Homo sapiens: one gene and its partner. The protein of the gene in region 2 purifies or fractionates together with the protein of the main gene of each other region. This does not show direct contact. Each region holds a gene or a part of one and is shown on either strand. Other genes may lie near its edges.

Region 1 (3,818 bases), on a different chromosome or scaffold from region 2:
GGAAAAACTAGGGAAATCTGAACAAAATGTGGAGTCTAGTTAATGGTAATGAACCGCAAGGTGCAGTGGCTCACGCCTGTGATCTCAGCACTTTGGGAGGCCAAAGCAGGCGGATCACTTGAGTGCAGGAGTTCAAGGCCAGCCTGAGCAACGTGGCAAAACCCCATCTCTACAAAAAACTACAAAAATTAGCCGGGCGTGGTGGCATGCGCCTGTAATCCCAGCTACTCATGAGGCTGAGGTGGGAGGATCCCATGAGCCTGGGAAGTCCAAGGCTGCAGTGATCACACCACTGAATTCCAGCCTGGGCAACAGAGTGAGACCATTTCAAAAAAAAAAAAAAAGTTGGGGGGGATGGGGGGACTAGCCCAATGTTGACTTCTGAGCTGGGGTAAATGTGCCATGGTCATGTAACACATTAACAACAGGGGAAACTGAGTAAGGGGCATATGGGAACTCTCAGCATTATCTTTGCAACTTTTCTATAAATTCAAAATTACTCCAAACAAACAAGTTTATTTTAAAAATTAAGTACATTATGCACATTTGAAAGGGCTTTAAAGGCCTATCGTTTTGAAAGTTCAATAAGAAGAAAACTGTTAACAGAGGCCACCCCAATGACACGGAAGTGCTGCCCTCAGCCCACTTAGCAGCCTCCTCATTAGGGCCCCATGGGAAGACGCAGAAAGAGGCAGAACAGCCAGGAGGGACCACCAAGCATGACTAGTTCACCCTGATATAACATGACCCCTGATCCCAAGCCACCTTCTCCTTGAGAGTTTGATTGGTTTGATTGGTCTTAATAACAGAATTTCTACCAATTCCGCAACCATTTGAGTTAATAGATATGTCCTGGACAAAAGCATGAATAAATCTGGAAGAGTTGCCTTAGAATTATTTCTCTAAAGAGAGCTGAATCACATCACTCTCCTCCCTACACCAGCTGAGATCAGGGATAGGAACCTGGGACTGATGAGGGCAGGAGGGAAAACAACAGATCTGGGGCTCTGGTTTTGGGCTGGGAGGGGTAGGGGGAAAGGAGAGATTTTAGCCTTTTTCAAACTCTGCTAAGATCCTACTGGTTCTCTAAGAAAGAAGGAGAAGGAAATGAAGGAAAGAAATGAACATGTATCACTCTTATCACCAGTACCAAGTAAGGCCTTTTATATAAATTATGCACATTATAATTTATATAAATTATCTCATTCAAGTTTCATAAGCTCATTGCAGGGCAAGCTCTGTTATCCCCATTTTCACAGAGAAGAAAACTGAGGCTTGAAGAGGGCCAGTGTTTGGTAATAGGTCACACAGCTAGTAAGGGGCAGAACTGAGACTCCTGCCCATGACATGTGGACTCCCTGAATGCTTTTTCCTCTTCCTCCTTCCCCTATTCCCCGGCTGCCTGTTTACAGGGCCCAGAATTCAGGATTGAAAAGGGTAAAGTCTCGGTGGCTCATGCCTGTATTCCCAGCACTCTGACTGGCTGAGGCAGGAAGATCACTCAAGACCAGCCTGGGCAACACAGTGAGACCCCGACTCTACAAAAAAATAAAGCAGCCAGGCATGGTGGCATGTGCCTGTAGTACCAGCACTTTGAGAGGCCAAAGTGGGAGGATCACTTGAGTCCAGTGGCTGGAGGATGCAGTGAGCTATTATCACGCCACTGCATTCCAGCATGGGTGAGAAAACGAGACCCTGCCTCTAAAAAACATAAGAAAGGAAAAAAAAAAAGAAAAAAGGGTAAAGTCTACTCTGCTACACTGGTCTGGAACTTTCAACCCTGGAACTCAGAAACCACCAACCAGCTTACATTAGCTGTACTCCAGACTGCCATCGGCATTTAAAAAAAAAGTCTAGTTTTCTGTTCTAAGCAATACTAATTGTAAAGTCATACTGAATAAAAGCTCGTTCCTGAAATTTAAGGGTGTGAAGAGGATGGGGAGAGGGAGCGTGGGAGCAAAGTGTCAGGGGGAGGGGGCTGGGAGAAATGGAGGCCTTGTCTGAGACCACCTCAGAGGCGCAGGGGGTGGGGAAGGAAAAAAGAATCAAACCCATCCTGCGAAGAAGCCTGGGAGCTGTGATTTCGGGAAGCATGAAAGACTCTGAATGCGGCTATAAGGAAAAGAGTCTTCTTAATCCAAAACCAGAGTCACACCTGGAATCTAGGTCCAGAAGACTAACTTCCCTCAAGGATCAGCTGAGATCCTGATAAGATGACAGGGCCCAGAGAGGCAGCCTGAAGAAGAATAAAGTGGGGGTCTGCAACCAAGCAGTGGACTCGGATTTGCCTCCCTGCCTATGATTTGTAGAAATTCCACTAACATTTGTGTAGTGCTTTGTAAAGACCATGCTTCTATAGACAGACACAGTGAATTTAATCCATTTTTTTTTCTTTTTTCGGGACAGAGTCTTGCTCTGTTGGCCAGGCTGGGGTGCAGTGGCACAATCTTGGCTCACTGCAACCTCTGCCTCCCAGGTTCAAGCAATTCTCCTGCCTCAGCCTCTTGAGTAGCTGGGACCACAGGCGTGCAAGCACCATGCCCGGCTAATTTTTGTATTTTTAGTAGAGATGGGGTTTCACCATGTTGGCCAGGCTTGAACTCCTGGCTCAAGTGATCCACCCACCCCGGCCTCCCAAAGTGCTGGGATTACTGGTGTGAGCCACTGCGCCTGGCCTCTCTTTTTTATTTTAGAGATGGGGTCTCACTCTGTTGTCCAGGCTGGAGTGCGGTGGTGCAATCATAGCTCACTGCAGGCTCGACCTCCTGGGCTCAAGTGATCCTCCTGCCTCAGCCTCCTGAGTAGCTGGGACTATAGGTGTGTGTCACCACACCCAGATAATTTTTAAAATTTTTTTTGTAGAGGTGGGCTCTCACTATGTTGACCAGATTGGTCTCCAACTCCTGGCCTCAAGCGATCTTCCTGCCTCAGCCTCCCAAAGTGCTGGGATTATAGGTGTGAGCCACCACGCCCAGCTGGAAGAAGTGATTTTTGAGGTGAGACCTGAATGGTAAGAAGAAACCATGTGAAGATATGGGACAGAATGTTCTGGAAGCCCTAAGGAGGGGATGAACTTAGTTCATTCAAGGAACCAAGAGTGGAGTGTGTTGAGAGGAGGGAGTGTAAGCTCTGGGCTCAGAGGTAGGCCCCACCAAAGCACAGAGAACCCAGGGTGAGAAGTTCGCATGGAAGCCACTGAAGAGTTTAACCAAGAGACGACATGATCTGCTTGGAGTTTTAAAGCAATTCCCCTGGCTGCTGGGTGGAGGACTGCAGGGAAGACAGGTGGGAGCAGTTCAGATTCTGTTAATCAGGACCTAGAAAGCCTTCACCCCAATTCCGAAGCAAAAGTGCCTCCCAGACCCACAAAGCTGAGAAGTACAGAGGCTGTGGTAGTCTCCAAACAGAGCGAGGGCTTGGGACACCAGGAAAACTGGGAGCATTTCTGCAGAACTGACTGTTTGTTAAGCTTTGTCACGCCTAAGGAAAAACTAAATGTCTGCTTTTCTGTTCTCTATTTTTTCCTTTTTCTTTAATGACTTTTCTCTTGAATGACTGAATTTTCTGCTTGGGATTTTACAACAGACATAGAAAAGATCTGGCCACAAACCTCACCATCTGAATCCTTGCACTAACTTAAGGAGGTCTGCACAGGCTTCCCTGAGGGCAAGGAGGACGGTGGCTGCTTACCTCGGCGCAGTGTATGCGGGCTGGGCCCTGCAGCATTGTGAGGTTGGCCCATGGAGAGCTGGTGGGAGCCAGCAGCTGCCTGGGGCTGATTTTGGCCAGATGCTATCTGACTGTTGTTTCTCCCTGGT
Region 2 (3,818 bases):
TCATAACTAAGGGAGCCGAGTCTGGGGATCTGGGGCTAACTAGCCTGGGAAAACGTTGGTTATCGGAAGATTATCGTAGTCACAGTTCTTGTTTTCATTTATTCGGTAAGTATTTGCGTGCTCACAATGGTTATATACGCTGCTAGTCACCGAGGGTACAGTGAAGACATTTCTTCACTTACAGGCCTTTCTTTCTAGTGCTCACATAATAAGTGTGCATGGAAGAAAAGTAGTAGTAATCATAATCACATAATAATAGTAACGATAATTGGACATTGTGAAAAGTGCAAAAAGGAAAGGGAGCTATTCTAGGATACCTTTAGAGTGATGAAGGAAAAACCTCTTCAAGGAGGGGACCTTTCAGTCAACCCATGGAAAAAAGCTGAAGGAGTATTTCAAGGGAGGGAGTAGATGAGTCTGTGTTGGAGATTACTAGATGGTACTCAGGGACCATGTCTTACTGAATCCCTCACAAGGGCCTGTCACTAAGAAGGTACTTAGTAGTGTTCCTTCTTCCCTGTCCCCAGCCCCAACATGAACTCATATAACCAAAATTTATGGTGGAGTTTCTGTATAAAGGATGCTGTCCTTTTGTTTTGTTGGCTTGTGGTACTTCTCAGATTACATATCCAACTTAATTATGGCATTTCTTTTCTTATTGGGTTTTATTAGCCTAAGGTGCTCTAAAAGCTAAGCCATAGGCTTTTAAAAAAATTTCTCCTGCTGGAATCAACTTTGTGGTTTTTAGCAGAACACCTAATCTCTCTGTGAAATGGGCACACTAAGGTCCTACAGATCTTTTCCTGTGCGCTGTGAGTAAAATTTGTTTGGTACTATGGAGAATGTGAAGTAATTCTGTTAAAGATTCTGTTAAAGATTTCCTATTAGAAATAGGCTTAAGGCATAAAAGCTAAGTATTTCTTCTTCTTTTTCTTTGCTTAAACTGTTCTTGTGTGTTTTACTATATAAGATACTACCAATCCTACACCGATAGTTCCTTTTACCTGGAAGCTGTTGATGATGTGTCTAGATATTTTAGAAACTCTTTTTTTAAAGTATTTTTTGTGGTAAATAACTAACATAGAATTTGTCATTTTAACCATTTTTAGGTGTACAATTGAGTAGCATTAAGTACATTCACATTGTTGTGCAATCACCCCACCATCTATGTCTAGAACTTTTTCATCTTCCCAAACTGCAGCTCTTTACCCATTAAACAGTGATTACCTAGGTCAGGCGCAGTGGCTCACACCTGTAATCCCAGCACTTTGGGAGGCTGAGGTGGGAGGATCCCTTGAGGTCAGGAGTTCAAGACCAGCCTGGTCAACCTGGTGAAACCCCGTCTCTACTGAGAATCACTTGTACCTGGGAGGCAGAGGTTGCTGTGAGCTGAGATCATGCCACTGCATTCCAGCTTGGGCTACAGAGGGAGACTGTCTCAAAAAAAAAAACACAACAAATCCAAAAAACAATGATTACCCATTCCTGCCTATCCCCTGCCCCTGGCATTCACTCTTCTACTTTGTGTCTCTATGAACTTGACAACTCTAAGTACCTTATACCAGTGGAATCAATCATATGATATTTGTCCTTTTTTTGTTTGTTTGTTTGTTTGAGACAGAGTCTCGCTCTGTTGCCCAGGCTGGAGTGCAATGGCACGATCTTGTCTCACTGCAACCTCTGCCTCCTGGGTTCAAGCGATTCTCATGCCTCAGCCTTCTGAGTAGCTGGGATTACAGGCGTGTGCCACCACGCTTAGCTAATTTTTGTATTTTTAGTAGAGATGGCGTTATGCCATTTGACCAGGCTGGTCTTGAACTCCTGACCTCAAGCGATCCTCCCACCTTGGCCTTCCAAAGTGCTGGGATCACAGGTGTGAGCCATGAAGCCTGGCCTGGTATTTGTCTTTTTGTGATTGGCTTATTTCTGTTAGCATAACGTCCCCAAGGTTCACTCATGTAGCATGTATCAGAATTTCTTTTCTTTTTAAGGCTGAGTAATACTTCTCTGTCTACACATAGACGGAGGAATATTATTCAACCTTAAAAAGGAAGGAAATTCCGATAGATGCTACAGCATGTACATACATACCACATTTTGTTTATCCATTCATCTGACATTTGGGTTGTTTCTACCTTTTGGCTATAATGGATAACAAGTATTTCTTCAAGACTCTGCTTTTAATTCTTTGGAATAGGTACCCGCAAATGGAATTGCTGGATTATATGGTAATTTTAATTTTTTGAGGAACCACCATATTATTTTCCATAATAGCTGCATCATTTTTTATCCTTATCAACAGTACACAAGGGTTCCAATTTCTTTGCATCCTCGCCAGCACTTGTCATTTTGTTTTGTTTTTTTGATAGTAGCCTTCTTTGTGGATGTGAGGTAATGTATAACAGTAGTTTTAATTTGCATTGCCATAATTATTAATGATGTTGAGCATCTTTCTATCATGTGCTTTTGGATAAATATCCAATTCCGGTACTCACTGTTTAACGGAGTTGTTTGTTTGTTTTTTGTTGTTGTTGAGTTGTAGGAGTTCTTTATGTGTTCTGGATATTCACTCCTTATCAGACATATGATTTGCAAATATTTTCTCCCATTCCATAGGTTGCTTTTTCACTCTGATTTTGTCCTCTGATACATAAAAATTTTTACTTTGGATGTAGTCCAGTTTATCTGTTTTGACTTTTGTTGCCTGTGTATTTGGTGTCATATCCAAGAAATCATCACCAAATTCAATGTTGTAAGACCTTTCCTCTGTGTTTTCTTCTAAGAGTTTTATAGTTTTAGCTCTTACGTTTAGGTCTTTGATCTACTTTGTTATCCTTTAAAAAAATTGTGATGAAAACACATAAAATTTGGTATCTTAGTTATTTTTAGGTGTACAGGTCAGTAGCATTAAGTCTTTTTTTTTGAGACGGAGTCTTGCTCTGTTGCCCAGGTTGGAGTGCAGTAGCATGATCTCGTCTCACTGCAACCTCCTCCTCCCAGATTCAAGTGATTCTCTTGCTTCAGCCTCCCGAGTAGCTGGGATTACAGGCGTCTGCCACCATGCCCAGCTAATTTTTGTATTTTTAGTAGAGATGGGGTTTTGCCATGTTGGCCAGGCGGGTCTTGAACTCTTGACCTCAGGCGATCCACCCACCTCGGCCTCCCAAAGTGCTGGGATTACGAGCATGAGCCACCATGCCTGGCCTCAGTAGCATTAAGTCTTATTTACATTGTCTTGGAATAGATTTCCAAAACCCCTTTTATCTTTTTAATATCTGTAGAATTGTGTTTATCTTATTACTCCTGATCACTCTGACCAGAGATTTGTGTTTTATTGATCTTTTTGAAGAACCAGCTTTTGATTTCATTTTCTGTATTTTTTCTGTTTTTTTGTTTGGTCAATTTCCATTCTGATCTTTATTATTTCCCTTCTTCTGTTTACTTTGGATTTAATTGTCTCGTCCTAGTTTCTTAAAGTGATAGCTAAAGTCATTGTTTTGAGATCTTTCTTTTCTAATTAAATGTTTAATGCTATAAATTTTCTTCTACAAGGCTGGGTGTGGTGGCTTAGGCCTGTAATCCCAGCACTTTGGGAGGCTGAGACAGGAGGATCACCTGAGGCCAGAAGTTTGAGACCAGCCTGGGCAACATAGTGAGACCCCATCTCTACAAAAAATTTTGAAAAATTAGGTGAGTGTAGTGGTGTGTGCCTGTTGTCCTAGCTACTTGGGAAGCTGAGACGGGAGAATCCCTTGAGCCCAGGAGTTTGACTTTATGGTGAGCTATGATCATGTCACTGCACTTCAGCTTGGGCAGCA

The links.
Region 1: the proteins of NXPE3 (region 2) and ARHGAP17 purify together in Homo sapiens (co-immunoprecipitation; one large-scale study listed by IntAct). This does not show direct contact.

The regions. Positions count from the first base shown.
Region 1 is NC_000016.10:24,931,780-24,935,597, forward strand, and holds part of ARHGAP17 (rho GTPase-activating protein 17), read right to left. Parts: coding exon 3,691-3,818; intron 1-3,690. UniProt on the Homo sapiens protein: Rho GTPase-activating protein involved in the maintenance of tight junction by regulating the activity of CDC42, thereby playing a central role in apical polarity of epithelial cells.
Region 2 is NC_000003.12:101,785,711-101,789,528, forward strand, and holds part of NXPE3 (NXPE family member 3 isoform 1 precursor), read left to right. Parts: intron 1-3,818.